Homo sapiens: one gene and its partners. The protein of the gene in region 2 purifies or fractionates together with the protein of the main gene of each other region. This does not show direct contact. Each region holds a gene or a part of one and is shown on either strand. Other genes may lie near its edges. The genes, in order: FKBP15, ITPRID2, VPS33B and PIGR.

Region 1 (7,025 bases), on a different chromosome or scaffold from region 2:
ATACTGACAACTTTTTTTACAGTAGTGGTATCACGTTTAATGTTTTTTAGGAAAATGTCATGGACTTGTACTACATAAGAAGGAGATCTTTCTCACTCGTAGTTAACTGCTGCATAGTAGCCTACTATGAGGCTGTACCATAATTTGTTTAATGATTTGCCTATCGATGGATATTTATGTTTTTATTTTTTCATTATTTTAAGCACTGCTTCTATGGACATTCTCATATTATATAACTGTTTTTGCAAATTTGTTTGAGCATTCCTACGTGATGGATTGCATGAGTAAGAATCATGGGATCAAAGGGAAGGCTACATATTTGAATTTTTATAAATATTACCAGGTTATCCTCAAAGAATAGTGCTTACACTTTCAGCAGTATGTGAGTGAGCCCATTTGTCACATTCTTCCCCACTCTACATATATCACTTTTTCTAATCTTCATTAGTCTGACAGGTGAAATATGTTATCTTGTTTTAATGTGTATTTTTATTAGTAGTAAAGCTTTCATATATTTAATACCTATTTGTATTTCTTATGTACATTCTCTCTTTAGTGTCCTTTATCCTTTTTCCTATTATTAGTTTGATTTGTAAACCCTTTTAAGGGTATCAATCCTTTGTCAGTCATAGATGTTGTAAATATTTTTCTAGCTTGCTGTCTTTTAACTTTATTTATAGTATCTTTTGTTGGTTAAAATTTTAATATCAGGAAATACTAAGTGAACAAAGTGAGAACATTTCTATCTTTTTGTCTGTTCTGGAATCGTTTAAATATGAAAATAATAAACTGCTCCTGAGGCTTCAGTAAATCTCATTAGGTAAAGCTGTTTTGGCCCAGTGCCTTTTAAGAGGGTAAATCTTGGTCTGCAATTGCATTTTTTTCCAGGATTTTTTCCATTTTATTTATTTATTTTTAACCAATTCCTTCTAACCTCTTGGCTGTTTTCAGTTTGTCATTACTATAGATACTACTACAGTGACCATCCTTGTAACACACTCTTTATGACTATGACTTATTGAATCCTTAATTACAATTTGTGGAATTTCTGGATACGTATGTTTTTAAAGGCTTTTCACAGGATTACTATCCAAAGAGAGTATATCCATTCGTTTTCTTACTATCAGGGTATGAGAATGTCTGATTTCCTGTACCTTTATTAAAGTTAGGATGTTCCCTAGCTCTTTTTTTTTTTTTTTTTTTTTTTTTTTTTTTTTTTTTCTGAGGCGGAGTCTCGCTCTGTCGCCCAGGATGGAGTGCAGTGGCGGGATCTCGGCTCACTGCAAGCTCCGCCTCCCGGGTTCATGCCATTCTCCTGCCTCAGCCTCCCAAGTAGCTGGGACTACAGGCGCCCGCCACTACGCCCGGCTAATTTTTTGTATTTTTTAGTAGAGACGGGGTTTCACCGTTTTAGCCGGGATGGTCTCGATCTCCTGACCTCGTGATCCGCCCGCCTCGGCCTCCCAATTTCCCTAGCTCTTAATAGAGGGGTAGATACAGCTCTTCTTGTTTTCCTTCTCCTGTCACCATTTTCCTCACCCAGTAGCCAAGAATGTTAAATATTTAGGGGAAAATTCAACTAAAAAATGGAGTTTTCAGAAATGGAGTAAGGATTCCACAAGGTAATTAACTGCCACCGCCATCATCCCTCTTTATTCTCTGTTAACAAGCTAGAGCTGATGATGGTTCTCTTGTTCCTAAGAACCTCTCAGAAAGGAAAAAGAAGTCAGCTCAAGAGCGTTCTCAGGCCGAGGAGGAGATAGATGAAATTCGCAAGTCATACCAGGAGGAATTGGACAAACTTCGACAGCTCTTGAAAAAGACTCGAGTGTCCACAGACCAAGCAGCTGCAGAGCAGGTAATGGGAAACTGAAGCACTTTGAAAATAGAGGGAAGGTGTGAAGGACTCAGAGAGAAAAGCTTCTGGTTTCTTCCTTACCCTTTAGGATGACATTTCTCATAGCTGATACTCTCACTTTGGAGAAAGGTAGAAAAAGTAATCCAGATATGTGCAGGAGAGCCAGGAATCAAATGGAGAATCTTCTTTCTTTTTTTAAAGCTTAGTTAATATTTAATTACATAAGTAAAAATGAAAAATAGTTTCCTTACAAAAAAAATTCCAAACATGGTAAGGCCAAAACCATCAACCATTGGACACCATCCTTCAGGCACATTATCATCCTTGAAAAGAAGGGATTGATTTAGGTCATCAGGAAGGGAACCAGGGATAGTGGCAGGACACAGCTGGATCTCTAGTCTGTGCAACAGCAACCTTTCTCATTATAAGCTTAAAATTTATATGCATACATTTGTTTAATTAGAGTGCATTGGTGCCCTCAATTTGACCACCTCTGGGAATTTTGGTGAAAAAAAGTTTCTGAACCTATAAAGTTTAGGGTTCAGACCCTGAAAAGCAGTGATCACATGGCCCTGCCCTCCAGGGACCTATCTAGATAGGCACACTTTTGTCTGCTTGGAGTACCTTTTGGAGTCCTGACAACCAATGACATCTTAAGAAGTGCATTTATTTTAAAAGTAATGAGTCTTTTAAACAGTTTCCCAGTTAAATCTGGGCTGTTAGCTTATTCTTTTGCTTTTTGAAAGATGGGTTTCCCTAGGTGCAATGGAATCTCACTCCCCCACCCCCAAGGATGATATGGTCATTACTTTCTCTTGGCAGCTGTCTTTAGTACAGGCTGAGCTACAGACCCAGTGGGAAGCAAAATGTGAACATTTGTTGGCCTCCGCCAAGGATGAGCACCTGCAGCAGTACCAGGAGGTGTGCGCACAGAGAGATGCCTACCAGCAGAAGCTGGTACAACTTCAGGAAAAGGTACATATTTTTCTTGAGTCAGACAGTTTAGGCAGCCCAGTTAATTTGAGGCAAGCAGGCTGTTTGAGTCCTGTCGATCCTTCTAAGCCTGAAAGTTATTAATATCTAGAAGACAAAACCACACTTGTTTAGCTTGTCAGTTATCTTTCACATACTTATGTGGGGTGATAGGTCAGTGACCTGGAAAAAGAGAAAACAGCACTAGTGTTCCGGAACATGTTTCCCATTATTATTGGATCCTTCATTTATTAAGCAAATATTTATTGAGAGTCAGTTGTATTCCATCCAGTGTGTTAAAGGAAGTGCATACAAGGAACCCTTCCCTCATGTATCTCACAGTCAAGAAAGGGAGACAAAGAAACAAAGATAGGTGTTAAGTGCTATGGGGCCCAGAAGAGGAAGTACCCAGGAGAGCTGGGAAGGTTTCCCAAAGGTGGTGACATTTGAGCAGAGCCAAGAAGGACAAATAGCTTTGGTAAGGCAGCAAAGGAGGCAGAACATCCTGGGCAAAGGCACTGAGATAGGATGGAGGCTGGGGTGTGGTGGGATCATCAGGCCTGAAAAAGAGAGATGGGACATGGCTTAGGGTCATGGTGTGAAAGTCCATATTCGAGGTCAGTTTCTTTCCTTAAAGTGTCCAGTTGAAAACTTTTGGCTCAGAGATCTTGGAGGCAATCTTGCAGATGAATGACAAATGGGTTGCTGTTAATGCTGAATGTTTATGTCTAAATGACTAGTTATTACCTACCCTCCTGCTCTTTTTTCATTATATTTTTTACCTGATTGGGAACAAGGCAAGCAACCTTCTTGGGAAAGAGAAAGTGAAGTTTTGCGTTGAAGTCGAATGATGAGGAGATAGAACTCTCTGAGGCAGAGGGTCGTGGGTGGGGGCTGAGGGAGTGGACACCAGCAGACCTAGGCGAGGTTAAGACTTGATGTTTAGAGATTCTGGAGAGGATGTGGAGAAATAGGAACGCTTTTACACTGTTGGTGGGAGTGTAAATTAGTTCAACCATTGTGGAAGACAGTGTGGCGATTCCTTAAGGATCTAGAACTAGAATTACCATTTGACCCAGCAATCCCATTACTGGTTATATACCTAAAGGATTATAAATCATGCTACTATAAAGACACATGCACATGTATGTTTATTGTGGCACTATTCACAATAGCAAAGACTTGGAACCAACCCAAATGTCCATCAGTGATAGACTGGATTAAGAAAATGTGGCACATATACACCATGGAATACTATGCAGCCATAAAAAAGGATGAGTTCATGTCCTTTGCAGGGACATGGTTGAAGCTGGAAACCATCACTCCCAGCAAACTATCACAAGGACAGAAAACCAAACACTGCATGTTCTCACTCATAGGTGGGAATTGATCAGTGAGAACACTTGGACACAGGGCGGGGAACATCACACACCGGGGCCTGTCGGGGGTTGGGGGACGGGGGGAGGGATAGCATTAGGAGAAATACCTAATGTAAATGATGAGTTGATGGGTGCAGCACACCAACATGGCACATGTATACCTATGCATCAAACCTGCACATTGTGCACATGTGCCCTAGAACTTAAAGTATAATAATAATAAAAAAAAAGAATTTGAAATAAAATTGTCTTTTTATTATATGCAAAAAAAAAAAAAAGAGACTTGATGTTTGGGTGGTTCTCCTCCCCTTGGGTTTTCTGACCTTCACCTGGTTCCTGAGGCCACAGCCACAGTCTGTTTGTTTTGCAGTGTTTAGCCCTCCAGGCCCAAATCACAGCTCTCACCAAGCAAAATGAACAGCACATCAAGGAACTAGAGAAGAACAAGTCCCAGATGTCTGGGGTTGAAGCTGCTGCATCTGACCCCTCAGAGAAGGTGAGCTGGTATTTCAAATGAGAAGCAAGCCATTTATATCAAGCATTCAGAAAGAACATGGCCAGTATGTTGTGTTAATAGCTCTTTTTCTAACTTTAGTGATGTTTTACTTGTCTGATGACTTTAAAATGAACCAGATTTGGTGTTTGTTTGTTTGAGACGGAGTCTCACTTTGTCACCAGGCTAGAGTGCAGTGATGTGATCTTGGCTCACTGCAACCTCCGCCTCCCAGGTTCAAGCGATTCTCCTGCCGCAGCCGCCTGAGTAGCTGGGACTACAGGCACGCGCCACCACACCCAGCTAATTTTTGTATTTTTAGTAGAGACAGGGTTTCACCATGTTGGCCAGGATGGTCTCGGTCTCTTGACCTTGTGATCCGCCTGCCTCAGCCTCCCAAAGTGCTGGGATTACAGGCATGAGCCACCATGCCCGGCCCAGATTTGGTTCTTGAGTTTAAGGAGCTTACAGCCTAGTGGGAAAACAAACAAATACATACTTACATATTAAGTGGCAAACCCAAAAGAACCCTATCTTTCTGAGGTTTTGACAGGTATAGGAAGGGCCTCTAACCACAGAAGAAGAATGGGGCTTGGGGAGTGTGCCCAGCATCCACTGGCCTCTGACCCTTAGAGCCTATGGCAGCTCCTAGTGGTGCTCACAGTGGGAGGGGGACATCAAGAAATGGTCTTTAAGCAGTCTTGGGCACACAGACCACAGCTTGCCTGCCCTTGATAGGTAACTCTCATGACTAGCCCTTCTGTCAAAGTGCTGCTCATTATTTAATATCATCCTCTCCACAGTGACAGCCTTCAGTGTCTCTGCTTATGACCAGCAGTATCCCAGTGTAGAGATCTAAGATGGCTTCATTTTGGCCTTCCATACACCTCTCTGGAATTTAATGCATCCTTTAGTGACTTGATTTTGACAGCATGTGTTTTGATGTTCACACAGGTCAAGAAGATCATGAACCAGGTGTTCCAGTCCTTACGGAGAGAGTTTGAGCTGGAGGAATCTTACAATGGCAGGACCATTCTGGGAACCATCATGAATACGATCAAGGTACAGCCAGCCAGCTGTCATTTGTTTCATCGTATTGGGCATTTTGTTGCTTAAGTACCTTCTAAGGGATCATGAATAAAAAATTGTTCAAAGCTGGCACAGTGGCTTATGCTTGTAATCCCAGCATTTTGGGAGGCCAAGGTGGGAGGACTGCTTGAGGCCAGGAGCTTGAGACCAGCTTGGGCAACATAATGAGACTTTGTCTCTACTAAAATTAAAAATTTAAAAATTAGCCGGGTATGGTGGCACGTGCCTGTAGTCCCAGCTACTTGGGAGGCTGAGGCAGGAGAATCACTTGAGCCCAGGAGTTCAAGACTACAGTGAGCCATGATTGCCCCCAACTGCACTCCAGCCTGGATAACAGAGCAAGACCCTGTCTCCAAAGAAAAAAAAAAGAAAATTATTCAGGACTGTTCCTCAGTAATTAGGATGCCTGGAGTGACTTGACAGATATAGTCAGCCTCTTTTAACAGGAAAGAAGCAAAGTCATTTAAACTACATGACCAGTAGTGTTAATAAGAATTAGGAGTGGCTACTGTGTTCCTTTCAGTGACCATCTCTTCCTTGGCTTTTGAATAGATGGTGACTCTTCAGCTGTTAAACCAACAGGAGCAAGAGAAGGAAGAGAGCAGCAGTGAAGAAGAAGAAGAAAAAGCAGAAGAGCGGCCACGAAGACCTTCCCAGGAGCAGTCAGCCTCAGCCAGTTCTGGGCAGCCTCAAGCACCCCTGAATAGGGAGAGGCCAGAGTCCCCCATGGTGCCCTCAGAGCAGGTGGTCGAGGAAGCTGTCCCGTTGCCTCCTCAGGCCCTCACCACTTCCCAGGATGGACACAGAAGGAAAGGGGACTCAGAAGCTGAGGCACTCTCAGAGATAAAAGATGGTTCCCTTCCACCCGAACTGTCTTGCATCCCATCCCACAGAGTTCTAGGGCCCCCGACTTCAATTCCACCTGAGCCCCTAGGCCCTGTATCCATGGACTCTGAGTGTGAGGAGTCACTTGCTGCCAGCCCAATGGCAGCTAAGCCCGACAACCCATCAGGAAAGGTCTGTGTCAGGGAAGTAGCACCAGATGGCCCACTACAAGAAAGCTCCACAAGACTGTCCCTGACTTCAGACCCCGAGGAGGGGGACCCACTGGCCTTAGGGCCTGAAAGCCCAGGAGAGCCTCAGCCTCCACAGCTCAAGAAAGATGATGTCACTAGCTCCACCGGTCCCCACAAGGAGCTGTCAAGCACAGAGGCAGGTTCCACAGTTGCAGGAG
Region 2 (7,078 bases):
TTTAAACATGTAATTCTATTGCTTTAACATATATACAATAACCAGAAATACTAAAATCAGAAATACTTTAATAATTAATAATGGTCTCAAAAATAGAGGAATATATCAATAACCCAATCTAAGTCAGACTAACCAGCATTCCTCATAGTTCAATTACATGATTTGTAAATAAATCTCTGAAAATTTTTGAAGTGTTTACTCTTATTTATTAATATTTTTTCTTTTATTCTCTTTTATGCTATTGCAAATTATTTCACTGGTATCCCTGGAAATGTTAATGGATACATTGAGGGGCCAAAAAGATTTACTGTTGAAATAAATTTTATAACTATTGGGTTTAAAAAATTAAAGTTTTAAAAAACAAGTTTTGAAGACGTCTCAAGTCTTTAACATTCATTGTGACTGGGCTGGGGTGGAGGAAGAGGAGGGGGTATAATATGCAGTGTTTTCCATTCTTATTTTATATAGAATTTTTTTCTCCAGGCAATACTATCAAAATATAAAATGCTACTTTGTTCATTTAACCTGATATTCTACTTAACCTTATACCTCTGAGGCCCCTTTTGTCTTAACAAAAGATGAGAATTTGAAGAAATAACTGCAACTCTACCACTCTCTAATCAGATTCTAAATAATTAAGATTTTGATGCACAAAATACAATTTTTGAGCATATAAATATTATTAAAGAAACAATACCATAACTACAACCAAAATGGCTTAGCCTACCCAATAGTAAATCTTGTTTTGCAATTTTAAATATCTAATTAAACCAAGAACAATGTTTCCCTTATGATTCATGCTTTCCCATATAAAACTGCCTGATTTAACCAAAGTATACGTTTTCTATCTTTGCCTGAACTTATGCCAATTTTAAAATACAGCTGCATAAGCATGATGATAGATGCCATTTGCTAATATGAGAATTATTCCCCCATATGAAATTGATTTATTTTTTGCTTTCTGCAATATAATCATTCTAATAGCTATACTGAGCACCTACATTATTTCTTGTGAGATTCACATCAATTTGGGAAGGTAGTTATCATGATTGCTATTTCAAAGATGAGAAAAGTCATGGCCTTGGGATATTAGCTGTCTTGCCTTATACCATACAGCTAGAAAAAGAGGGAAACATTTCAAACTTCAGTCTAACACCAAAGACCACGTTGCTTCCACTATGTCATGCTGGATGGAATTATCCACATTTAATATACATTTCTTTCTTTTTCCACCTTGCAAACATCATTGATTCAGACAATACTCTTTTTTTTTTTTTTTTTTGAGACAGCGTTTCACTCTTTTTGCCCAGGCTGGAGTGCAATGGCACAATCTCAGCTCACCGCAACCTCTGCCTCCTGGGTTCAAGCTATTCTCCTGCCTTAGCCTCCCAAGTTGGTGGAATTACAGGCATTCGCCACCATGCATGGCTAATTTTGTATTTTTAGTAGAGACAGGGTTTCTCCATGTTGGTCAGGCTGGTCTCAAACTCCTGACCTCAGGTGATCTGCCCCGCCTCAGCCTCCCAAAGTGCTGGGATTACAGGTGTGAGCCACCATGCCTGGCCCAGACAATACTCTTTATGTAGAGCTTCGCAATGTATATTTGCAGTTGGTGTACAAGATAGTACTTGTTTGGGAGAAAATCCTCGAAGAAGCAAACATGCAGACTTTCTTCATGTGTAGTATTCATTATCGAATAAATGAAATACCTTGGGCATTTTAAAACATCTGTAAAAGTTGAGAATACAATGAAAAAACCTTACTTTTCAAGGCAATAGCATACTACTTCAAGGATTTCCTTCTCTATTACTTCTATACCCTCAACATATTTCATTAAAAAATGCCATGTAGAAGAAAGCACACATTTGTGCTACCGGAAACTGAATAATGTATATATTCTACTTTGTTACCTGCTGGTAATTTTTCCCCCTTATTACTTGACTCTGGTTGTTTGATTTTTTTTTAAACTATGGTTAATTATTGCCTTTCACAAGAATTCTTTGTTGTTGTCATCTGAAAGTGTATTTAAACAACTGCAAACCTAAATAAAATATAAGCATTATAGAAATAACATGAAGCAAATTTTAAAATAATCAATTTAGGTGTCTCTTTGAAGAACACAGAAAACAGAAACTACCTCAAGAAGACCCATTATCCCTTGTGGGATCAGCATTTAAAAGTGTAAGGGGTGCAAGAATACTGAAGAATGTTCTATCATCTCTCACAATTTACAATCTGGCTAGTAAGCCAAACATACCTTCCAGGGCCAGTCATATTATTTACTCTACAATCCAGTCCCCAAATAAATGACATAGACATGCTGTTGTATATCAGATCCCTGTGGGAGGGGTGTGATCAGGAGTGGTGGAATGGTGGAGTCAAAAAGTTCTGGCTTAGCTAGATTTTGAAAGTCATGAAGGTAGTGGACAGAAAGAACAGGAATGAATTAATTAGCAAAGACAGAGTAGGCAACAGCACTTAGATATGATAGAATTGAAGCTGGGAGCAGCAGAGGAACAGGGTGGATACGTAAGAACCCTGGATAAAACTTTGAAGGCAGCATATTTTGTGGCACTTGACCAGCCCTTTCAATGCTTCTTCTTAGGTACCTTCTTTATTCATTCTCTTTTTCATCTTCCACACAGGCAGCGAGACTCTGACCTATTTTGGAGAGCCATTAAACTGTTAGCTGCATCCTACTACAGGACCCTTGAAGGCTGAGAAAGTCTTATAGGTTCAAAGAAAAGATTTTCTAGTAGTGAAATTTCAAGCCATAGAGATATTAATATCACTGTTCTAACTCCCCTGACATTTGGCAGTACATAGATGAGACTCAGGAGAATATTATGATGGTTCTGGAAAGCTAGTCTGGATTTTGGATTTGATCTTGGGGATATTAGTAAACCATTAGAAGATGTCTTGGAATTGTAAATCTAGAGCAATGCGCTAGAAAGGAGATAGGAAAGAATGAAGGCAGGAAAATCAGTGTGCTATTTTAGTAGTCTATGACTTATGTGTAAATGCCTGGACAAAAACTAGGCACTATTTCATCTCCAGAGCATTCTTCATTCCAAATTCTCCAAAAGTTATGGTTTCCTGTAGCTATCAATGACAATGCACTTAATTACCTTGTAATTCGAATGCTTCCATTAGGAATTTTACTATGCTCTGGATTTTAATTTCAAATGAAAAATAATTCCTTCCTTAAAATATTTTGTCTACGCAAAATATTCTTTTCAATCACGTTAAGATTTTAAAAAGTGTTCTAACTTGTTCTTCAGAGCATAGCCAAGTACAATAAAATATTGGAAGCCTTACTTATATGTATAGTTCAGATGTAACATTTAGGGGAACAATGCTGCTTGATAGGTCTGTCACATTGTGTCTGGTTTTGGATAGAATTTGAGTATTTTTGCTAATGAGAATTTAAACATAACAAAACGGAATGCCAAAGCTGGCTTTAAAAAGTTTTGAACCCTGACATCATTTGTTTCTTGTATCATGCTGTCTCACCAAAATCCAAGCAACTATCTCCACATTGTCCCAATTGTTTCCTCTATTCTCCCTCACCAAAGTCCAACTTCAATGTGAAATTTCCAGATTAAATATCCTTTCACAATTCATTTTCATTCATAACATAAACACGATAAATAACTTTAAGTATGAAAGTAGCACTCCAGGAAGCTTAGTCTTTTGCAGTTTTTACATTTTGGCAACACCAATCAAGCACCTCTTTCCGTCCTTACCCCAATTCCTTGGACACTAAAGAGTCTATATTCAGGCGACTCTTTCAAGTGTATGTTTCAGGGTGCCCAAGCAGACACTTGTTTTCTCGCGGGGGATGTTTTGTGAGACTTGGCCTCCCCACTTACGTTCTATTTTTAGGTGAGGGAGGAGGAGGAGGAGAGGAGGAAAGATTATTAACAAACTAATCTTGCCCATTCCGCGGGCAGTAGTCGGGGGCTGGCCTGCTCCGCGTCGCGCCGGGCGCGCCCCGCCCTACCGCGCCCCGCGCGGCCCCGGCCGGAAGGGGGCGTGGGCCGCCGCCGAGGGAAGGCGCGCAGACGCGCAGCGGCCGGCCTGCTCCGGGCGCGTCAGGCAGGGGGTGGGGAGCAGGGGCCGGGCGGGCGCTCGGCTCCCAGCCGCGCTCCCTCGGGCCACTAGCGCTCCCGCGCGCGCCCGGCCGCCTTCATGTGAAGCGCCGGCCCTCCGCCCCTTCCCTCCCCTTCCTTCCCTCCCTCCCTCCCTGTCCCCTCCTCCTCCTCCTCCTCCTCCGGCGCCCGCTTCAGCTCCCCGGGGCCCCCTGCCCGGCCGGGCGCTGACAGCAAGGGCGGGGGTCCCTGCCGCCGCCTTGTCTCGCGCAGGGTCCGGCTGGGGTAGCGGAGCCCCCAGTGCGGCCATGGACCGGCCCCTGTCGTCGTCGGCGGAGGCGGAGGAGGAACTGGAGTGGCAAGTGGCGAGTCGCAGGAGGAAGGCCTGGGCCAAGTGCCGCAGCTCCTGGCAAGCGTCGGAGACGGAGGATCTGTCCACAGAAGCGACGACGCAGGACGAGGAGGAGGACGAGGAGGAGGACCTCCCCGGCGCGCAGCTGCCGGCAGCGGGGGGAAGAGGTCGGTGCTCCCGGCCGGGCTCCGGGGGGAGGCTGGTGGGCTGGGGAGAGTCTCGTGCGCCCTGGGCGCCTGCCACGAGTTCTGGGAGAGCCTCGGGCACGGTAGGCCGAGGGGAGAGGGGACACTTCCGACCTTCAAACGCGCGCGCTGAACGAGGCGCCCCCAGCGTCAACACAGACAACTGGGTGCCATCCGATTTCCCTGCCAAGGGACACTGAGACGTGTCGCTTAGGCTGCATTTGCCGTGGTAGATTTTCCTACTTGGGAGGGTCCAGGGTGACTCCGCCGTCGTAGTGCTCCTGGGTGGTAACGTGCTGTCCCCTCTCTCTACCCCCAGGAAACGTGCCCAACGAGAAGATCGCGATATGGCTCAAGGACTGCCGGTGAGTGCTCCCTGGTCCGCCCGCGTCCCGGGGGAGATCCGTGCGGACGGGACGCCGGAGCAGAGCCACTCGGGCCGCGTCCCTGTGGGTCCCGCGACCGTTGTAAGCTACAAACCGGAAAGTGAGCCGGCGGATAGCTTCCTCCTCTAAGCGATTAGAAATGGAAGTGCTGTGACCGCTGATTATTTGGTGACCGTGTTGACTTTACAGTTAGGACTTGAGCTACTCACGCATCGTGTTAGCATCAGAGATCAGAAATCCAGAACAGATAATCATGCCATATTTGTTCTGTTTTTATTTGAAAGAATTCTCACATCTCGAACAGGATATTTTGTTTTGCTTTAGTTTTGGCATCTGTACAACTGGCACGGAATCATTTTCCTTTCAAATGTGTTTTAGACGAGTTTAATTTACCTAACTACACTAAATGGGCTTTAATTTTGTTTCTGTTTGGGGAGCTATTAAAACTAGCTAACTTTGTACTTATAGTTTACTTCTTGAACATGGAATTGTCAGATGGCACTGGAATTCTCAGGGAATAGAACTTTTAAAAGCATTCAGACTGCATAAATCTGTTTAATTACATGCTTTGGCAACTGGTACAAAAATGTTTGATAAAATACAGAGGAGATGAATCATGTTGCACGTAAATCTGACTACAGCAAAATGTACTTGTTTCTTATTCCACTTTGCTAGTTGTAAAATCAGGAATGTAGCCTTTAAACTTTTGTTGGTGTTTGCTTTCGAGCATATTTTTGCTTTCTCAATTTAGATTTTCTTAATATTTTGTTCAAATATTAGAGTTAGGGTAGTTTGTTTTGTTTTGTTGTGGAAAGTGATTCATATGCCAGTTTGCCTCCTCTAAAGACAGACAAGATATTGGCTACCATGATATTAATGCCTTGTTTTGATGAATCGACTGGAACCTTATTGAACACTCTTTATTACAGAACTCGTACCCTTTATTGGAAGTGTCATAGACCCTTCTGAAATATGATGACATATATGGAATAACTTCTGTTTAAAGATGCACAGAGGCAAATACACTGCTTGAAGTCCTTGGACCCCAGATTTACAATCTAGCTGTAAATCAATCTCCCAGTTTTCAGATAAGCCTTAGATATTAGATACTTCACTCAAAGTATGGATCAAGAAATTGTATTAATGTGCTATTGGTTCATTTAATTGTTAAATACTAAAATAGTCTATAATGTAAAAGCTTGAAATTTTGAATGTACATGTTCAAGACCTTTTGGGTGAGATCTGATAAAACTAGTATCTTTCAGGTTTCCACTTAGAAATGTGTTTGAGAAGTTGTTTTGTAACTTTTACTTAAGTCCTTTAAAGCCTCCAATCTGACTCTTTATTTAAATACAGTCCTAAGTACAGTATTGGCTTACTTTAGGTTTCTTAAAATAGGCTTAGCATTACAAATACATTTATAATGTTTTATTGTTTAAATTCAAGTGCATATTCAAAAGAATTTTAAAAATTAAGAACAAGAGAAGAATCACACTATAGTTTAATGACATATAGGATTTAAGATTGTATAAGAGATCCTATCAATTAGACAGTAAATAAGTGCATCTTTTTTGAGACAAATGCAGTAGGCAAATGTTGACATTCACCAGGGCACAGTCAATCCCTGACAATTTCAGAAGTTTTGTTGCCAATACTGATTTATGTGGGCAGATTCTGTAGTCTGCTGCTCCTTCTCTCATGGATTACCTTCTTGTTCCTACAGTTGCACCTATTCTACACAAGAGTGGCATTCATTTGTATCCAGGAAAGCTAGAACAAGTAGTCTTTTAATCTTGGCTATATTATCACAGATTCGACTTAGGATATGTTGCATCTGTATTTTTGTTTTAAATAACAACTCAAGTTCCTTCTCAGAGTTGGGCATCTATGTATTTTGTTTATTATGTACAAATGACCTGAAGACAGCATTTTACCCACTTGATAAGTTCTCAAATAGTCTTTGTTTCTTAGTGCCGTCCATATCCTGAATAAAGATACCGTGTTTTCTTTCCTTAAAGGGAGTCTTTATTTTGATAACCATTTGTGGGGGGACTAAGTAAAAAC
Region 3 (7,025 bases), on a different chromosome or scaffold from region 2:
GAACAGGGATTTATTCCTTTTCAATCTTTCTAAGAAAATTCTAGAGAAAATAGAGGCAGTAACTAAGGACTGAAGCCTCTGAAACCAGGCTGTCTGGATAAAATCCACCCTTGAGGCCTTATTACCTGTGTGGTCTTGGGTTAGGTACTGAGCTGCTCCGTGTCTCGGTTTTCTCATCTGGAAGATAGAGTTGATAATAGTACTTATCTTTTAATTTAAGTGAGATGACTTTGAGTCTCTGTTGAAATAAGAAATCAAGTGGGACCCTAGGCTTATATTGTTTTCTCCTTCTGTAAAAGGAATAAGAGGAAAGAGCCAGTGACCTTCCTTTGAATGTCACCTGAACATTGATAGCACAATCTTACAAATATTTATCTTAGGATAATATGCTTAGGAATACAAACGTGAAGTATTATTACCAGGGCAAGAAATTATTGAGTAGGACAACCACTCAGAATTATAGGTACTTTTGAATGTTACTAAAGGAGTCATGGCAATAATTTCTAGTTCTTGGACTCTTACAAACCTTTTTTTTTTTTTTCTTTTCAAATTATGCTTCCAAGGACAGCTTTGGTGTTTTGTCTTGTCTTGTTTTGTTTTGTTTTGTTTTGTTTTGTTTTTGGAGACAGTGCATTGCTCTGTCACCCAGACTGGAGTGCAGTGCCGCAATCTCGACTCACTGCAACCTCCGCCTCCCAGGTTCAAGCAATTCTCCTGCCTCAGCTTCCCGAGTAGCTGGGACTACAGATGTGCACCACCGTGCGTGGCTAATTTTTTATATTTTTAAAAGAGGTGGGGTTTTGCCATATTGCCCAAGCTGGTCTCAAATTCCTGAGCTCAGGCAATCTGCCCACCTCTGCCTCCCAGAGTGCTAGGATTACAGGCATGAGCCACTGCGCCTGGCCAAGGACAGATTTGTATTAACAGGGAATAATCCTACAAGTTAAAATAATCCTACAAGCCTCTCTATTACACAGAAAAACAAAATAGTTATTTTTATGAGTGTTCTCCACTTAACACCTTATCTAATCAAATTCTTTGACCTAATTTTATATTAGGAGGCATCTCTCTCTCTTCTTTGAGACTCCTTTGTTAATTATGAAGATTGGCAGTTTTCAGACCTGGCTCTGGAATTCCATTACTTAGCATTAAAAGTTAAAAGCAGGCCTGAAGATTTCAGTTTTCCTGGCAGAAATGAGTGAGGGAGGAATAGGATTCTTCTGTGTAACAGTAAAATAAGGAGCACGTAGCATTGATCTACATCTCACAGAGCTAGTATGAAGATGAAGACAAGTGATTCCTGTAAAACACTAAGAACAATGCCTAAACCATTTTAAGGGCTTACAACATTAGCTGTTAATAATGTCAACTCATTATCAGATGTGAGTGCCCTCAGCATTCTTTCTCATTACTTTAAAATATTCACCCTTTCCCCACTTACCTCAAAGGAGGAAGAGATCGTGGCCTTTTCCCTCCTAAGATGAGCTGTTCCATGCCAGTTCTTGGCCCCATTTCTGCTTTCCTTCTCCATTATCTTGCTTTACCAGGTAGACTTTCTCTTCTGCCTTCACCCATGTCTATGCCTTCTAAACAATGTCTCCCATTTCATCTCTTTTCCCTTTCAGAGCTCCCCCTTCTTTCAGGGCCAGGCTTCTGTGAAGAATGTTCTATTGTCACTGCTTCTGCTTCCTCATCTCCACCTTCATCGTTTCATCTAGTCTCCCTCAGGTCTCCGTTGTCAAATCCACTGGTGTCTATTTAATGTTAATCCTACTTAACTTCCCTGGCATTTGACACTGTTGCCCACCCTTCCTTGCAACTCTCACCTTTCCTGCCTTGACTGTTGCTGTTTTCTCCTGCCCCTGCTTCTCTGAGTATTCTTTCTCAGTCTTCCCTGCCAGGTCCTGTACTCTGGCCCCCTTTCATCTTGTGTTCCCTAGAGTCCTGTCCTTAGCTCTCCTCTGCGTGTTCTTTTCTCTTGGACAGACCATCTACTTTATTTATTTATTTGAGACAGGGCCTCACTCTGTTGCCCAGGCTGGAGTGCAGTGGCACAATCTCAGCTCAGTGCAGCCTTGACCTCCTGGGCTCAAGTGATCCTCCCACCTCAGCCTCCTGAGTAACTGGACTACAGGCACACACCACCATGCCCAGCTAATTTTTGCATTGTTTTGTAGAGATGGGGTGTCACTATGTTGCCCAGACTGGTCTAGAACTTCTGGGCTCAAGCGATTCACCTGCCTCGGCCTTCCAAAGTTCTGGGATTATAGGAGTGAGCCAGTGCACCCAGCCACATCATCCACTTTAAATACAGCATATATGCTACTTAATCCCAAGTCCTTGTCTGTGTCTCCCAAGGTCCCGTGGGCATGTCCTAAACAGAACTCACTCTCCCTTGTACAGATCTTTTCCTCCCATCTGCTCCTCCACAATTTCCAGAGCACTTCATGCCATTGCTCTCATCTCTGTCTGTACAACTTACCTTTTGAAGACAGCTGAACTCCTTCTCCTTTGTAAACCTCTTCCATTCTCTCAGGGAGATAAGAAGCAATTTACTCAAACATAAATTAAATGGATGAGAAAGAACTGAAGTGCTGGGCTGAATGATTCTAATGGTTCTTTCTAGATCTTAAGAGTCTGGGTTCTCTTGTCTTTCACTGGGTTCGGCAATTATTGTCCTCATCAGTGACCACAGAGGAACTCCAGAGAAATGGAGAGAACAGAGAAGAAGGTAGTTACTAATCAATTTCCTTTTCTCTTTCAGTTCTATGCGTGTGAGATGGTGCTTGAGGAAGAGGGAATCTATGGAGGTGAGAGGAGATGAATGTGAGTGGAAAGGGAAAGAGAACATACAGAAGAAAAAACTGTTGTTGTTCTCCAACCCCCCCACCCCACCCCCACCACCAGCTCCTTCTTTTCCTGGTCTTATTCCTGTTAGTGTAGCAGGAGGAGAGGTTCCTGAGAATGGGAATGGGAATAGGACCACGAATTAGAACACTACTGGGGGCTGGGCGCAGTGGCTCATGCCTGTAATCCCAGCACTTTGGGAGGCCGAGGGGGTGGATCACCTGAGGTCAGGAGTTTGAGTCCAGCCTGGGCAACATGGTGAAACCCCATCTCTACTAAAAATACAATAATTAGCTGGGCGTGATGGCGCACGCTTGTAATCCCAGCTACTCGGGAGGCTGAGGCAGAAGAATTGCTTGAACCCGGGAGGCAGAGGTTGCAGTGAGCCGAGATCACGCCATTGCACTCCAGCCTGGGCAACAAGAGTGAGACTCAGAGAAAGGAAGGAAGGAAGAAAGAAAGAGAGAGAGAAAGAAAATAAAAGAAAAGAGAGAAAGAGAGAGAGGGAGGGAGGGAAAAGAAAGGATAAGAAAAGAACACTCCTGGGGTAGTATGAAAGGAACACCAGGGCTTAGAGTTGGAAATGACCAGCCACTCTTTTCTCACCTTCCAAGGCTCCCACAGGAAAAACTGGGCCTCCCCTCTGTGTATTCCTCCGCTATTCTCCACACAACCCAAACCTGATCACAGCCCTCCCTGCTGGAAATAGCAGCGGCTCAATATAAAGCCCAGAATCCCCAACATGCCTCCTATCCCTTGCACAGTCTGGCCCCTCCTGTCCCATTAGCCTCATCGTGTGCTGCTTCCTTCTCCTGACTCGCCACCCTCCAGCCAGAGAGACTTTACCCATGCTTTTCCAGGTACCCAGAACGTTCTCCACCCTATAGCTTTTTGCCTTCCCGAGTCTTACCCAAATTCTAAGCTTGATTTTCTCTTCTTGAGGGAAGTCTTTCCTATACCCCCAGTTGTGGTTACATCCCTTTAATATATGTGCTCACAGCTTGCTGTTTGACCTCTTTGGAGCACAACCGTGATTTAATAGTTTGTGTCATAATTTGTCTGGTGTGTCTCCCTCACTAGACTGTAAGCTCCAGAAGGTTGGGAGCATGTCCATTTTGCTCACTGCTGTATCTCTGGTGTTCATACAGTCCTACATGTAGGCAGCTTTCAGTAAATATATGCTGAATAATGAATGAGTGAGCTGGGCGTGGTGGCTCACACCTGTAATCCCAGCACTTTGAGAGGCCAAGGCAGGCAGATCACCAGAGGTCAGAAGTTTGAGACAAGCCTGGCCAACATGGCAAAACCCCGTCTCTGCCAAAAATACAAAAATTAGCTGGGCATGGTGGCGTGCACCTGTAATCCCAGCTACTTGGGAGGCTGAGGCAGGAGAATTGCTTGAACCCAGGAGGCGGAGGTTGCAGTGAGCCGAGACTGCACCATTGCACTCCAGCCTGGATGAAAATTGCTAAACTCCATCTCTAAATAAATAAATAAATAATGAATGAATGAATGTTTTCTCGGCACTTTTGGTCAGCCCTCTAGTAAAAACCCACCACTTATCACATTGTATTACAGGCTGCTGTGGACACATCTCCTTTCCTTATCAGACTGTGAGCTCCTTAAGGGCAGGGACTGTGTCTTATTCTTCTTTGAGCCTCCATTGCTTAATGCAGTACTGGCATGTGGCAGGCACTCATATATTTGTTGCACGCACTCAAATATTTGTGGCGGACCTTCCCTCTTAACGTGGAGCTAAGTACCTTCTGCAGGGAGGCTGATGCTCTCTGTCCCCACAGATGTGAGCTGTGATGAATGGGCCTTCTCTTTGCTGCCTCTTGATGTGGATCTGCTGAGCATGGAACTACCAGAATTTTTCAGGGATTACTTTCTGGTAAATGCAGAGGCCCTTGTGTCTTGGCATCAGGGGATGGGGACAAATGTGGGATGCAGAGGGCTAGAAATACCAATATAACCTTTGTCCAACGCAAGTAATTTATCACAAGTGATAGTGATGTGGTGATTGAGTGCTACAGATTGGTCTCTGTGGGACTTCCTGTGGAGCCAATGAAAACCTTTCAAGCATCCCCCAGGCCCTGCCACCCTGCTCCAGGGCTTCTAGGGCTAGCCACTTTCCAGGTGGTCCTACTGGGTTGATTCATATCTTTGTGGCTTGTGTGGTCCCTGCAGGAAGGAGATCAGCGTTGGATCAACACTGTAGCTCAGGCCTTACACCTTCTCAGCACTCTCTATGGACCCTTTCCAAACTGCTATGGAATTGGCAGGTGCGCCAAGGTAAGAGCACTAGCAGTACTGTTGTCCCAGCAGACGCTGTTTTCCCTGTTCTGTACCCTCCTGGGGTTATCCAAGGGCACCTGTGATATGAGGTGTATTCTTTACTTTGCTTTCATTGTTCTGGAATAGATCCTCAGAGAGGAGAACTTGTGTGGCTAACAGAGAAGCAAAAGCCAGGATCTCCTGGGTAGCATTCCTAAATCTCTTTTTATTTTGGGGACAGAGTAACACATCTTCTCATCAGTAGGAAGAGTGTTGGGGAAAGATAGACACAGACGGGAGTAGATAGGGCCATATTGTGAATAATTAGCTCCTGTCTCGGGGACAAGAGGAAGTATCACGTGGAAAGGGCTGACTTCTGTAGGTATGGGGCTGCAGTAGGGACCTGGACACAAGACTGAGAATGTCTTGGGCCCTGGCAGATGGCATATGAATTGTGGAGGAACCTGGAGGAGGAGGAGGATGGCGAAACCAAGGGCCGAAGGCCAGAGATTGGACATATCTTTCTCTTGGACAGAGGTAAATTATGCCCAGCGTTCCTGTCATCTTTCAGCCCTAGAAGACACGGGAATATGGAAGGCGTGGTGGCAAAGTTAAAATCCTAAAGTTAGGGCTGTGAATCCCAGCTTTGAGGAGCGTGGGTCCTTGGCCCTATGGAAAGTATCAAAGCTGCCCTTGGACATGCTGTGTAGAAGGCTGGGTCAGGGAGAACCTTCATGGTCAGGGATCTCTGTTTCAGATGTGGACTTTGTGACAGCACTTTGCTCCCAAGTGGTTTATGAGGGCCTAGTAGATGACACCTTCCGCATCAAGTGTGGTAAGTGCTATGGTCCTCTGCATCTTGGCAAGATGGACGGGTCATCAGCCTTGGCACCTCCCACGTGGGGCAGGGTTTGTGGGAGAGACCCAGACCCTGAATGAACTGCTGGCTTCCAAATAGTTTGAGGACCTTTATGGCAGTTCAGGGAATGGTAGGAGAAGTCCTCATTGGAGATCCTAATAGCTGTCCCTCTGCTCTCAAAGGGAGTGTCGACTTTGGCCCAGAAGTCACATCCTCTGACAAGAGCCTGAAGGTGCTACTCAATGCCGAGGACAAGGTGAGGGTGTGGGTGCTAGCAATGGGCCCACCTAGGGCCACTGCTTATACCAGGCTGTGGGCCCCCTGCTTATACCAGGCTGTGGGCCCCAGCTCTGAGAGGGGAGGCTGAGTCTATGGGAGAGAGGGTTTCCCCACCAGTTCAGAGCATCTCCTAGAACACGGTGTAGGCATTTGATATGGACTTACAGATCCCAGCTCAGCTTTCTTTGTATTTCTGCCAGAACACCTGAGTACCCTTCCTGTACTGTCATTCTACTGCTAAGTTATGGTTCTGACAGAGTAAGCTGTTCTTGTCTTACTGTCCTCACAGGTGTTTAATGAGATTCGGAACGAGCACTTCTCCAATGTCTTTGGCTTCTTGAGCCAGAAGGCCCGGAACTTGCAGGCCCAGTATGATGTGAGGCTCCAAGCCCTGCTCCTCTGTTTTGTTGCCTCAGTGGCTTCCCAAGGCTGCTGCCCTTGGGCTCCCCTTCTAATACTATGACAGGTTCCCTGTCCTTTCTCATGGATGGATGGCAACTGAGGGAGGGTGGTGGTTTCTCGTGTCTGAGGTTGGGGGGTTCACCTTTGGGAATTTTCCCACAGCGCCGGAGAGGCATGGACATTAAGCAGATGAAGAATTTCGTGTCCCAGGAGCTCAAGGGCCTGAAACAGGAGCACCGCCTGCTGAGTCTCCGTAGGTTTCAGCTTGAGGGGCGTGAGGGGAAGTGACTGTGTCCCTCTGGGGAAAGCTCCAGAGGACCATTACTCCCGAGGAGGAGATCCCTGTTCATCTGATGCATAT
Region 4 (7,299 bases), on a different chromosome or scaffold from region 2:
CTGGGACTACAGGGGTGTGCCACCACCCTGGCTAATTTTTTTGTTTTTGTAGAGACTGGGTCTTGCTATGTGGCCCAGGCTAGTCTCCAACTCCTGACCCCAAGTGATCCTCCCACCTTGGCCTCCCAAAGTGCTGGGACTAGAGGTGTGAACCACTGAACCTGGCCTATACTTAATCTTTATAACATACCTATACAGTAAGTATAATTTTCCCCAGAGACATTAAATAATTTGTTCAAGGTTCCCTGGCTGGCAGGTGGTAAGGCTTGGATGTGAACCCAGGGCGTCGAGGTCCAGAGCCCCTGCTCTTTTCCCAAGGCTACACAGGCTCTCTATGCTTGCTACCTCCTGGCTTGTGTTGTTCCTTGACAGTATTGCATGTGAGTGATGACTTCTCAATTGGACTACTTGCCCTTGTGGAACAGGGGTGCACTCTCCTGCATGTCTCAAATCTCCCTGGACCTTGAGCTTGTCATGGTTGGTAGGCCGAGAAATAACCACCATCCCTCTTCCCCAAGGTTTGTCTATGTCTCAATCTCTGGAGCCCAGAAGTGTGACCTTATTTGGAAAAGAGTCTTTGTAGATGTGATGAAGTTCAGGATCTTGAGATGAGGACATCATCTTGGATTAGCTGGGTGGGCCCTAAATACCATCCATATAACAGAGAAACAGAGAGTTATTTGAGACATACACAGAAGCCAATGTGACTATGAAGGCAGAGGTTGGAGTGACACAGCTACGTGCCAAAGAACACCAAAGAATGTCAGCAGCAACCAGAAGCTAGAAGAGGCAAGCAACGGATTATCGTCTAGAGCCTGGAGGGTGGCCCTGCTGGCACCTTGATTTCAGGCTTCTGGTCTCCAGAACAGAAAGAGCATACATTTCTGTTTTCTTAAGCCACTAAAGTTGTGTTAATTTGTTATAGCAGCTGTCAGAAACTAATACGGTGCTCAACCAAAACACAGAATCCTAGAACTGAAAGAGCCTTGGGAACAATTTGGCACTGTCCTCTGATGGAACAAACAATCCTGCAGACCTACAGGATGAAGTGATCTGGCAAAGGTCACTCGGCAATTAGAGGCAGAATCAGGAACAAAACAAAGGTGTTCCACAGTGACTTATGCTGAGTCCCAGAGTCAGGAAAGTCCAGTGAGAAGCTGTTCTTCTGCTGGTATATTTTCTTGTATGATTACTTTAAAAGAAGCAGGGAGGGTTGAGCAGATGAAGTGTTGTAAGTTTGGAAAGTATAATCACTGCTGTTATCATCATTATTATTGATTTGGGCAATGGACTCTCTTGGCCTGTCCCTCCTCCCCCAGGGCTGAGAAATAGTACTATTTTAGGGCCACTGGGTTCCAGATGGGGAAACCACAGTGCGAGAGGGGAAGCAAGTGAGTCCAATCACACCACCGGCGTGTGGCTGAGCCCAGAATAGGACGTAGGATTTTTGACTCCCTGCCTCTTCCCAGGGCTCTACTTCTCATTTTCCCCTTTCTGTAAACTGGATCAGTAGGATCAGTGGGCTCCAGGTATGTGGGGTGTGTGTGTGTGTATGTGTATGTGTGTGTGTCTGACATGGGTCAGCTAAGACAGTTTTGGAGACTATTGAAAACATGCAGCAGGACATGATCTAGTAAATTACCCACCATCATGAAATAGCAAAGCAGGGAAGGAAATCTGCAACCTGTCCTCCACGCCCACCAAGGCAGCATGAGAAGAAATGATTTAATGAGTGTTCTCCCCTTCCTCCCTGCAAGCCTTTGCTCGTCAAATTTCTGCACTAGTGTTCTGTGAACCTGCCTTGACTTCTACTCCAGCCTGGACAACTGGACACAACTTATTTCTTGCTTTGGGAAGGAAGAAACAAACCCTACAAATATTTTGACTATTGAGTTCAAATGGAGAGAGGTATAAATCGGGAATCCTTTGAAAGGAGCTATAATCTGACAGAACCAGGCTTGTCTCATCTCTGCACCTGCATATCTTGTCTCCCCTCGCATCCTCCTGCTAGACATTAACCCCAGAACTGGGGAGGAGAAAGACTGCTGAAGAGTAAAAAGGAGAGCTTAGTTACTGATGTGTCTTGGTGCCCTCCCACCCACCACCATGGGGCAGAGTCCAGGCTACAGTAGGGGAGAGGGGATTAACAATGATAGAGATATCCAGGTGGGCTTGAAAACTCCAGATTGAGGGGCCCTCACCTTCGCCCATCCTGTAGAGAACTTTGGTGGTCCACAGTCTTGCTGATATCCATTGTACCCCCAATTATATGGGAACACTGGCACACAGGAGGTTACAAGAGTGTTGGGGGAAAATGTGACTCTGCTGCACAGGATCTCCCAAAGGCCTCAGGAGTCTGTGATCAGCCAAACTCACCCTGCACCCACAAGGTGGGCAAGGAGAGGCTGAGGGCCTGGAAGACCCACCCCAGGGAGCTCAGTGTATGGACTAGGAGGGCACAGTGTGGACCACAGAACCCTCAGGATGAGCAGGGACAAAGCCCACTGACCAAGCAGGGGAAGTCACATCTCAGTAGACAAAACTATTTCCTTCTGGAGCCCAAGGCCAGCACAGCATCGTGACAAAGCAAGACCAAAATAATAATGGGCCACCCCTTTTCACTGCCTCAGCAGTAACATTGACCACCCCCTCACCCAAGACCGCTCTCTCCAGACTGGACCCCAGGGGAGAGAAGGGAGACAAAAAGGAAGGGAACTCCATAATGAGGCTAAATTTTAAATCTGGAGTGAAGTGACTGAGAGATCACTGAATTGGGCTGAGCTTGCCTAGAAGTGACTAGGTAACTTGTTTTCTTTTATCAGTCAGATTATGGGTTTAGGGTTTGAAATTAAGCTACATCTGGAAGCCATCATCCTCATCAAACTAACACAGGAACAGAAAACCAAACACCACATGTTCTCACTCATAAATGGGAGCTGAACAATGAGAACACACGGACACAGGGAGGGGAACATTACACATCCGGGCCTGTTGGGGGGGGTGGGGGGAGGGAGAGCATTAGAACTAATAGCTAATGCATGTGGGGCTTAATACCTAGGTGGTGGGTTGACGGGTGCAGGAAACCATCATGGCACACGTTTACCTGTGTCACAAACCTGCACGTTCTGCACATGTAATCCTGGAACCTAAAACAAAATAAAAAAAGAAAATCTAAGTTTGCAAACCACAAAAAAAGAGAGAAATTAAGCTACATAAAGAAATTATGGGGTTTTTTTGCTTGCCATTGAAATCTGTGATTGTGTGTTAACACCCACAAGTGAGCCAGTGGTTAGCTAAAATAAGACCCAGGGCTCTGGCTGCCTTGTGTTTCTCCAGGGCTCTATTTCTCTATTTTTCCTTCCCCTTCTGGTGTTTGGCCTATAGGACTCTGTAGGGAGAGCCTGGGTCAGCCCTGCACAGGTAGGATGGGCAGCATTTCTGTGGGGGTTTGCAGTGAGGGGTCGGGGGGCCATACACGTGTGTGTTGGGGAGTGGGCTTCACTTTTGTCACAGGACTGCCACGATCATTTGGGGAACACCTGGGAGTCCCAACCAGGTCATGTTTTGGCATGGACTAACAGATAGGGAAGGAGGTGCTACTTCAGCTCAGCAGGTCAGCACCGTCCTTGCTATGGAGCCGAGCCCGGGTCCTAACAAGACTCTGAGGTCAGCCATGTTCAGGGGAGCCCAGAAGCAGCGAGTCTTTCATGACTCTGGGGAGTGAAACAGGAAGGGCCACAGTCCTGCCAGTTCCTGGAGCTCTGGGACTGGTAAAAGGGGCTTGGCAGGAGGTGTATAAGGGGCATTTTTGTCCAGGCTAAGTAACCTAGGGAGTCGGAGGGGATTCCAGAGCAACTGGGGATATGAGACCAAGGACTACGACAGCCACTCCTGCCACCTGTGCCCCATCAGATGATGTCAACTTCAAATCAAGCATTGGGCCAGGTATTTTAGAGCTAATACCGGGCTATATCCTCTACCTGTAGATTTGGTATTACCATCCCTCTTTTCCAGATGAAAAGAAATAGGAAGGTGACTTGCCAAAGGTCTTGCAGCTAGAAAGCGACAGAACAGCATCTTCACGCTTGACATTCTGTCCCTCATCCTGAAGCTGCAACGATGGAGGATTCCCAAGTAACAGAGTCTCCCCAAGGTCAAAGGAAACCAAATGGAGCCAGCCAGGAAGGCCAAAATGAAAGGAAAGCAAGGGATCTGTGAGAGTCACATGACCCTGGCTGGCCACGGTGCCTGTGGGAGAGTGGCCCTTTAAGAGCCCAGGTGTGGGTCAAACACTGAGCAGAGTTTCAGTTTTGGCAGCAGCGTCCAGTGCCCTGCCAGTAGCTCCTAGAGAGGCAGGGGTTACCAACTGGCCAGCAGGCTGTGTCCCTGAAGTCAGATCAACGGGAGAGAAGGAAGTGGCTAAAAGTAAGTGTTACTGCTCTGGGATCCCCAGACGGGATGCTATCTGGAAAGGGCTCGGGACGATGGCTCAGGTAACCCCCTCCATTCCCAACTCCCAGTCTCCTAGATAGTGGGGTGACAAGGACAAGGAGGCAGACTGTGTGACTGTGTGTGGCTGGGGAGTAAGCGTGCATATCGCAGTGGGACGAGTAGGGATGCACGTGTGTGGAAGCCCCCCATCCTTTTCTGAGAAATATCAGCAGGTGGGAAGGGACCTCTGTGGTCAGCATATGTAATTCTACTCTTTCAGCTTGGTCTGTGCCTGGATTTCCTAACTCCTCATAGTTGATTAACTGTGTGGCCTTAGACAAGCCACCTAACCTCTCTGATCCTCAGTTTCTTAATCTGTAAAACAAAGATAGAAATAACACCTATCATTCAGGGTCAATGTGGGTTCAAATGAGAAAACACAGGTGAAATAGCTTTGTAACCTCTAGAATGAAATAGGAATTGTTTCATATTTTTCAGTTTAGTTTAATTAATCAAGGATTTATTGAACACCAACAGACCTGGAATTAGATAGTGCGCATAAAGTATGGCACCTAGCAAGTCCTCTTCCATTCTTTGAGGTTTCCCACTTGTGGCTTTCTGGCAAAGGCATGTTCAGCTCCTTTTTTCTGGGCTTCCAAGAACCTCTGAAATCCTTTGCAATTCCACCTCGCTTTGCTCTAGCAGATTCCTGCCATGGGAGACATAAATGTGTGTCATCGCATCATCCTGCCCTTCCTAGAGGTAGAAAAAAAGAGGTCCTCACGGGATCACTGAGTGAGGTGGAGCTGAGCCCCACAGGCAGCATGATCAACTCCTGCTGTTCCTCCTGGCTCTGCAGCCAGCAGATCTCAGACATGGGCTTCCCCTCCCTTTGCCCATCCTGACAGCAGCCCAAGCCAGCAGTGGGACCGTCCGGCACAAGGGCAGCAGCGGGTCAAGCTCCATCCCTGACCCCCAGTTCCCTTTGTGCAATTGCCACAGTGCCTGGGGCCATTGAAGCTGCTCCTATTTTGTGCCATCACTTTCCCCCTTCACTAGGGGAATTATAGATCCTTTAACATCTGGAGAGGAGATGCCAATTTCAGGGGTTTAGGTAGAAGGCAGCTGTCTGGTGCCTGGACATAGGTCTTCCCAGAGCCAGATCTGGAATTCTCTCTCCATCCTTGTCCCGCCCCTGGATGTGCTAAAGTAGCAGAAAGAACACTGAGCCAGGAGTCAGGAAAGCAACTCTCTCTGCTTATCTCCTAGTGCCGCTAGACCTCTGTGGCTTTAGGTGATAAAAAATGGGGTCACACAGGCTTCCATTTAGTAAACCCACTTGCCCTGGGCTTTCACACCTTCGTCTCATTCTCCCTTGATACCAACGAGGAGGTAGGCAGGGTTGGTTTTGTGATGTCATTCCCTAGTTGAGGAAACCAAGACACCGTGAGTCTATGTGAGTGGTGTGAAGTCACCAGCAAGTTTGAACGATGAGGTTTTGGTACAGCCATTTTGATATGGTCATGAGGACATTTTGATGTCACCTAAAAAGCAAACTATCCAACTTAAAAAAAAATACCTATGCATTGTGCTCAGCAGAGACCTTCATCTATGTCTTGCCCTCTCTCTGGAGGGGCTGGGGCTGGAGTCCCAATGTCACTGGCATCGACACAGTATGGTGGAGTGGAAAGAGGCTTTGGCGTCAACATGCCTGGTTATACCCATGGTTATGTAACATATCCTACACATGGTAGGTGCTAAATAAATAGCAGCTAATATTTTCCAGGAAGAAATTTCTCTGTTGGCACCTACCTCTGGGTCCAGGTGTCTCTTCATTTTTTAATTTTTTATTTTTTTGAGATGGAATCTTGCCCTGTCACCCAGGCTGGAATGCAGTGGCGTGATCTTGGCTTACTGCAACCTCCACCTCCTGGGTTCCAGCGATTCTCCTACCTCAGCCTCCTGAGTAGCTGGGATTACAGACCCATGCCACCACACCCAGCTAACTTTTGCACTTTTAGTACAGATGGGGTTTTACCATGTTGGCCAGGCTGGTCTTGAACTCCTGACCTCATGATCCACCCACCTCAGCCTCCCAAGGTGCTGGGATTACAGGCGTGAGCCACTACGCCCGGCCCCAGGTGTCTCCTTATAAGAACTGCCTTTTCCGTGAAAGGCAGAGAGGAAAGAACTGAACAAATTCTCAGTTCGCTAAGATTGAATATCCTGCTTCTTCCTCTCTCCACTGCTTCCTCTCAATAGGAAGACCCTCTGAGGTAAAGCAGAGTGGCTAAGGGCCTATGCTCTTGATCTAGAATCCCATCTAAGTCACTTACCAACTGTGCAACCTTGGGCAAATGTCTCACCTCTCTGTGCCTCAATTATCTCACTCATGAAATGGGGTTGCCCATTTTGTCCCATCTCCTATGGTGGCTGTAAAAATGGAACACATTAACACATGTAAAGCACCTGGAAAGGACTCAGCGTACGTTCTTCTAGCCTAGCCCATAGTGCTTGTCTCCTCTCTTATCCACATGAGTCCAACCTAAGTAGCTCACTCTCCATCTCTCTATCTTCAAAGGATGTCCAGCAAGCAGACTTCTACTCTCATACCAAGTCCAGGGGACCTTTCTTCCTCTGAAAAAGAGGGAAACCTGAGATTAGATGGACAAAGGTTTGGACTCCACACCATGAGAGATGAAGTGCAGTCACTTTAACTGAACAGGAGCTAGTTAAATACATTTTATAAAAAGAAAAACTATCCTTCAGCACAGCTTACACTCCTGCCCCAATCCACAATTGTGGGGACATATGTTACACATATGTTGGGATACTAACTTAGTAAACTGAAAATGATCTAGCACATCC

What was found.
Region 1: the proteins of ITPRID2 (region 2) and FKBP15 purify together in Homo sapiens (affinity purification with mass spectrometry; 3 studies listed by BioGRID and IntAct, with this or other methods). This does not show direct contact.
Region 3: the proteins of ITPRID2 (region 2) and VPS33B purify together in Homo sapiens (affinity purification with mass spectrometry; 3 studies listed by BioGRID and IntAct, with this or other methods). This does not show direct contact.
Region 4: the proteins of ITPRID2 (region 2) and PIGR purify together in Homo sapiens (affinity purification with mass spectrometry; 3 studies listed by BioGRID and IntAct, with this or other methods). This does not show direct contact.

What each region holds. Positions count from the first base shown.
Region 1 is NC_000009.12:113,169,261-113,176,285, reverse strand, and holds part of FKBP15 (FK506-binding protein 15), read left to right. Parts: intron 1-1,702; coding exon 1,703-1,858; intron 1,859-2,680; coding exon 2,681-2,833; intron 2,834-4,579; coding exon 4,580-4,705; intron 4,706-5,656; coding exon 5,657-5,764; intron 5,765-6,343; coding exon 6,344-7,025. UniProt on the Homo sapiens protein: May be involved in the cytoskeletal organization of neuronal growth cones. Seems to be inactive as a PPIase. Involved in the transport of early endosomes at the level of transition between microfilament-based and microtubule-based movement.
Region 2 is NC_000002.12:181,887,668-181,894,745, forward strand, and holds the start of ITPRID2 (protein ITPRID2), read left to right. Parts: upstream 1-4,062; 5' UTR 4,063-4,399; coding exon 4,400-4,610; intron 4,611-4,947; coding exon 4,948-4,993; coding exon of another isoform or gene 4,994-4,997; exon of another isoform or gene 4,998-7,031; intron 7,032-7,078.
Region 3 is NC_000015.10:91,005,586-91,012,610, reverse strand, and holds part of VPS33B (vacuolar protein sorting-associated protein 33B), read left to right. Parts: exon of another isoform or gene 1-177; intron 178-1,441; exon of another isoform or gene 1,442-2,057; intron 2,058-2,764; coding exon 2,765-2,810; exon of another isoform or gene 2,811-2,820; coding exon of another isoform or gene 2,821-2,826; intron 2,827-3,634; coding exon of another isoform or gene 3,635-3,707; intron 3,708-4,646; coding exon 4,647-4,741; intron 4,742-5,037; coding exon 5,038-5,142; intron 5,143-5,564; coding exon 5,565-5,661; intron 5,662-5,881; coding exon 5,882-5,959; intron 5,960-6,165; coding exon 6,166-6,239; intron 6,240-6,551; coding exon 6,552-6,638; intron 6,639-6,826; coding exon 6,827-6,917; intron 6,918-7,025. UniProt on the Homo sapiens protein: May play a role in vesicle-mediated protein trafficking to lysosomal compartments and in membrane docking/fusion reactions of late endosomes/lysosomes.
Region 4 is NC_000001.11:206,943,462-206,950,760, reverse strand, and holds the start of PIGR (polymeric immunoglobulin receptor precursor), read left to right. Parts: upstream 1-4,294; 5' UTR 4,295-4,425; exon of another isoform or gene 4,426-4,493; intron 4,494-7,299.